Regions from separate parts of the Homo sapiens genome. Here region 2 is linked to region 1. Evidence: fine-mapped expression QTL. A gene starts in region 1. The other region holds a variant in brackets. All regions are shown on one strand. Distances are between the middles of the regions.

Region 1 (2,924 bases):
CCGCTTAGCCTCACTTAAATCTCCTCGCGAATCTGAGCTGGCCAACTTCCTCTGGGGGAAACTGCTAAACTCAGCTCCAGTTAATATTGTAGGGCTGAGGATAAAATAGCAACGGTTTTGAATAGATGTTGACTTTTCCGACCCAGAGGAGCGGAACTCAGGGATTGTTTGCAAAAGCTAATCGTTTCCACAGTGAAGCAGGGAGAGCCTGGTGCGCTCACCGCCGCCAGCCCCTCCCTGGAAGCCAAGCTGCGGGAAGACTCTGGGACTCAGTTGCCCCTCCCCATCTCTGGCCTTTAAAAGAGTCCTCCCGAGAACTTGGACCAGTGGCCGCCAAACCAGGGCTGCTTCCCAGACTCCTGTCTCCAATCTTGGAGTCTGCGACCTCAGGTTCGGCGCCCACTAGATCTCGAATCCAACTTCTTTCTGAAATGTGTTTAGGTTGAGAGTTCCGGGGCCTGGGCGGGAGTTTGGTGGGGAGAGGGGAGTCTGCTATTTAAGGCGCCATACATACACAGAGACAGCCCGCCCGACCTCCTAACACTCAGGAAAAGTCAATTTCCAAGCATCTGTTCTCAATAATGGTGGCAGGGAGCAGGGCACTGTGACTCCCAGCATCTGAGGGAATACCCGCAGCAGCGCTACCAGAGCGCATTTGCTCTATGCGCTGGAGGTCGGGGTGGGAGGGTGCGCAGATCAAGATCTTTTTTTGCGAACCTCAGGGAAATGACCGTAGTTGGACTAAGAGGTCCACTTTGGAGACTACCAGCAGCCCTCCAAGCCCTGGCAGTGGAGAAGTTTCGTTGCTATGGTTTCGGAGAGGCATAAAAGCCATCACCCAGAAGCAAATGTGTTTGGGCTCCTTATATGTGTTGTCACCACCCAAGGCTAGGCAAATTCCTCGGCGCTTTGCATGCATCACTCACTCCCTGACAGAGCATCTTGGCCTTAGTCTCCCCATCCCAGGAGGCGGGTGTGCGCTAAGGGAGCGAAGTCCAGCCGGAGGCTTCGTAACATCCAAGTCTAGGGACACCAGGAATTCTCTCGCTCTAGCTCCTGTGGTCCAGGGGTGGGAGATGCCCCCGAGTGGCCGCGGCGGCCAGGAGCGTGCAGGGGCCACGGGGAAAGGAGCGCGGCGCCTTTAAAGCAAGAGGCGAGGAACCCCCGCCAGGAGGCGTGTCTGTCTCTGCCGCCGCCGCCGCCGCTGCTGCTCCTCGGTCACCGTCTTCGCCGCTGCCGTCACTCGCGCTCGGCGCCGGCGGCTGCGCTGGTCGGTCTGGTAGCTGGGGACTTTTCCGCCCGACCTCCTCCGGCTGCTCCTCCCCGAGGACCACCCCACCCCCTCCCCGCCCACCTCACCCCTAGCTCCAGGTAAGGACTCCCCGGCTGTGGGCTGCACTCCGGGCTCCTTCACGAGGTGTTTGTTTTCAAGAGGACGGGAGGGACTGCGGGTGGGCGAGGGGCATTTTCCACCTGGAGAGAAGGAAGAAGGCGAACAGTAGCGCTGCGGACGTCCGTGCGCTCGGGGCGCCCGCTGGACGGATTCACTGCGAGTCTTTGTCGGGCTTATCTCAGCCAATTCCCGTCAAGCATGCAAGTGGCTCTGTTGGCTGCAGTCGCCTATGTTCTCCACATAAAATGATTTAAGAAGTGGACGTGTCAGGAAGTGGCCTCAGCTACGGGGACTCACGCGAGGCGAAGAGAATGAGACAGATGGCAAGAAGCTGTGTGGCTGCCGGCGGGTCTGACGAACTCCCCATCCCTCCTTCTGCCCACCCATCCTTCCATTAACCCTACTCCTTAGTTCTGCGCTGAGGAAGTATATTTATTTTAACCGGCACCCGTATTAAGAGCTTCTGAAAAAACTTGGAGGGCGTCCCATTAGGGTAAGGAGTGGGCAGTGTTACCAGGGTGGATCATAAACCTCAAGAACTTTTAACGAACCACATCCTCTGATATTTTTACCTTTAAGGAGATAGAGTTTCTTTACCAAACAACACGACCGAGCTGAGGCTCCTTAGAGAATAATTTCCAATTTAGGCAATGGGGAATATTAGAAAACTTACTATTAGTAGCCTTTTGGTAATGCACAGATTATCTTCTATCGTTTATTCATCTCCATACTGTAAGTATTCTGTCATCAGAAATTATCTTATGGATTGATGATTATTTTCATTTCACGAGAGATGATTGGTTCATTTGAGTCTTAATTAGTCAGTTTAGTTACTGAAATAAATGCAATTGTATTTCAATCTTGATTTGTCTTAGTTCATTACTTTCTAACTTTATAGAGTCTATTCCTGTAACCACCAAGGCAGCCTATCAACTTCCAGTGGCCTTAAAAACTTTTGAGTCAAACAAACAACAAAAAATTGAAATGCACAAGAGCAAGGTGATAGAGAATTGAGCAATGTTTGGAAGTCTTATCTGTTTGTTTTCTCCTATTTAAACCCATTGAAAATCACACAGGCTGAAATTTAAAAAAAAAAGTTCTGGGATATGTAAATTTATTCCACTTCAATTTGTTAATTAAGATACACTTATTTTAGTGTCTAAAAATTAATCAAAACTCTAAATGTCATTAATCATCAATGCAGCAGAATGTTGCTGGAACAGCTGATAATGTGTTCAGAATCATAAGGGATACCACAGCATGCATAGTTAAGAAGAGTGAGTTGCAAGTATGCAACAGTGTGATTTCAACTGAAACCTGACTCAGTCCTGACTTTATTCTCTGAGATCTTTAATGCCATGTATAAACAGGCTGTTTGTTTTAGCTAAATTGCTATGCAACAGGCCACTTGCATGGAATAATAGGTTAGGTGTTACTATAAGATGAGGTTTTTCAAATGTCACATAACAGCAGGACTTCCGTGACAAGTCAAGTGGAATCCTTAGTAAGAATTCCATGTGAAAAATTTAAA
Region 2 (2,924 bases), 64 kb before region 1:
ATGCCTATTCTTCCCCTCATGACTAGCTTATCATTCAAGAGAAGATGTTTGTGTTTCTAAATATTCAGTACAGTTTATTCAATCTGCAATATAAATTGACGAAGATGAAAACTATACATTTGCAATTTAGGAAATATGTTGAATCAGGTAAAAATAAGAGTTCATGTGTAAGTAAGAAAATGTAAATAAAATGTGAATATTTATTTTCTCCATTATTTAGCTCTTAATTCTACTAATATTTAGTAAAAACATTATTTACTTGTATAATCTCCAAATCAGACACCTGAAAAATGAATTTGCTTTTTCTTCTTAAACCACTATAGTTTGGAAAAATAGGATATCTTTTGGGCTTATTTTACATTTTACTTCTAAATCTTAACTTAAGCCTGGAATATTTTATGCATGGAATAAACAATTATGGTCAGAAATATTTCATAATAACTGAGGGCTGGAACAGAGTCATTCCAGGGTGGGACTAGAATGTGCATTTTATAGTGTATTATGAGGTTGAGAGTTCAGGGACAGGGACATGCATGGATTGGAGCAGATCAAATTATTGGCAATCACTAGAAAATAACGCACAGTAAAGTCTGAGGGCAGGAAATAGCAGCAGAAATGAATCTGTTCCCAGGAGAACAGGACCAGTGTTATAGGCACAGTTGCAGATATTTTCTGAAGTCTGAATACATTGAATGAAGTAGTGCTGGAAATGAATGTTGATAGGTCTATCATGATTTGATAGGCACAGGAAATCTTGCAAATTCAAACTTATGAAGATATACATCTACTTTTGCTGAGAGTTTTATACATGGTGCTTTTATATTTAGCTCTTTATTCTATTTTGAGTTAATTTTTATATATGGTTTGAGGACCTAATTTATTCTTTTGCATGTGGATATTTAGTTGCCCAACACCATTTGCTGAAAGACTACTCCTTCTCTGTTGAATGGCAATGGTACCCTTGTCCAAAATCAGTTGATCTTATTGTATGGCCTTATTTCTGGACTTTCAATACTATTCCTTTTGTCTATAAGTCAATTCTTCTGCCAATACCACACTCTCTTTATTACTGTGGTTTTGTAGTAGCTTCTTAAATTGTGACATGTGAGTCTCTCAACTTCATTCTTCTTTTCTAATATTGTTTTAGCTGTTTGGAGCCCCTTGCATTTTCATATGAATTTTAAGATTAACTTCTCTATTTACCAAAAATGGCAGTTAGAATTTTGATAAAGATTGCATTGAATCTGTAGCTCAATCTGGGAGATATTGCCTTCTTAACAATATTCAATCTTTCAATCAATAAACACAAAATGCTTTCCATTTATTTAGATCTTTGAAAATTTATTTGAATAATACTTTATAGTTGTCAGTGTAAAAAGCTTATACTTTTTTGGTTGATGGTAGAATTATTTTATTAATTTCATTTTCAGATTGTTTATTGCTAGAGTATAGAAATTCAATTGCCTTTTGTCTATTGATTTTGTATCCTGCAAATTTGCTGGACTTGTTTATTAGTTCGTGTGTGTGTGTATATATGTGTATTTTTATAGGTTTTTTATATATAATATCATGTCATCTTCATGTAAAAATAATTTCACATTTTTTCCAATATGGATGCCTTTAATTTCTTTTTCTTGTAAAATTTCCCAACTAGAACTTTCAGTACAATGTTGAATAGAAGTGGCGAGAATGGGCATCCTTGTCTTGTCCTTCAACTTAGGGGGAAAGATTTCA[G/T]TTTTTCACTATTAAGTTAGTTGTGGGTATTTTTTAAAAAAATAAATGCTCTTTAACGGATTGTGGGAGCTCTCTTCTATTCTTATTTTGTTGTGTGTCCTTGTCATGAAAGGTTGTCAGATTATGTCAAATGTTTTTTCTGTGTCTATTGAGATAATCATGTAATTTTTCCCTTTTATTCCATTAACATGGTATACTACATAGACTGATTTTCATATATTGAGCTAACTTTGTCTTCCTGGGATAATTCAAACTAGGTCATAATGTATCATATTTTTATTTGTTGCTGGATTTGGTTTGCCAGTATTTTGTTGAGAATTTTTGTATCTATATTTCTAAGGGATTTTAATCTGTAGTGATCTTTTCTTATAATATCTTTCGCCTTGGAATTAGGGTCATACTGTCCTCATAATATTCCTATAAAAGTGCTCCTCATCTATTTATCTAATAGAGTTTTTGAAGGATTGGTATTAATTTTTATTTAAACATTTGATAAAATTTATCATTGAAGCTATCTGGTCCTGTACTTTTCTTTGTGGGATTTTTCTTGTTGTTATTACTAGCTATTAAAGAAAAAAAAAATGTACCGGACAAGATGAGCAGACAGACAACAGTTGTTTTTATTCTGATACTAGTGCCAGCATAGAGCAGAGGTCACACAACACATCTGGATACCTGGTTCCTTCAAGACAAAGTGCTGGAAATGTTTTAAGTGCTGGAGAAGGTCAGGGAGATTATAGGCCATCAGTGTTTGCGAATTGGTTTTTCCCAGAGAAAAAGTAAACCTTCTCCTGTCTTTATAACAGAAAGTAGCTTCACAATTTGGAGCAAGGTATCCTACCTACTTCTACCCTCCCCCAGAAACTGGGAGATAGGAACACTTTTTTATTGGATGATTACATTTCAGAGAGATGGTTCCCAGGTCCTTGAGAAAGATATTCCTGAAATGTAAAACTGGCAAGAGGTTGGAAAAAAAATTACGTCTTCAAAGAGCAGATAAATAATTTATAATTACAAGTTTTCTGAATAAAATTTCTAAGAAAAGGAACTTCAGGGGCATATAATGAGAAAGAAGTTTATTTGCAGTTTATTTAAAGTTTAGTGAAGCTGAGGGTAATGTTAAGGCCAACTTGATCATCATTCCAACTCTTTGTTACGAGTCTATTCAGATTTTCTGTTTTCTTTTTTCT

Which allele goes with the higher level. Positions count from the first base shown, and alleles are read on the strand shown. Sizes are in standard deviations (SD) of each study's normalised expression.
In carriers of allele T in region 2, the expression in skin of the gene that starts at base 1,242 in region 1 tends to be higher than with G alone (large effect, 1.5 SD a copy in TwinsUK).

What was found. PIP is the estimated chance that this variant, and not a neighbour inherited with it, causes the effect.
Region 2: its variant is the best candidate, but not a certain one, in a credible set for the expression of GRIK2 in skin (TwinsUK, PIP 0.72).

What each region holds. Positions count from the first base shown.
Region 1 is chr6:101,392,467-101,395,390 of GRCh38, forward strand. GRIK2 (glutamate ionotropic receptor kainate type subunit 2) reads left to right here and starts at 1,242. Exons shown (of 17, transcript NM_021956.5): 1 at 1,242-1,371.
Region 2 is chr6:101,328,151-101,331,074 of GRCh38, forward strand. No RefSeq gene overlaps it. Among named protein-coding and RNA genes, the nearest start is that of GRIK2, 64 kb to the right of the region's middle. The variant G/T (reference allele first, on the strand shown) is at 1,735.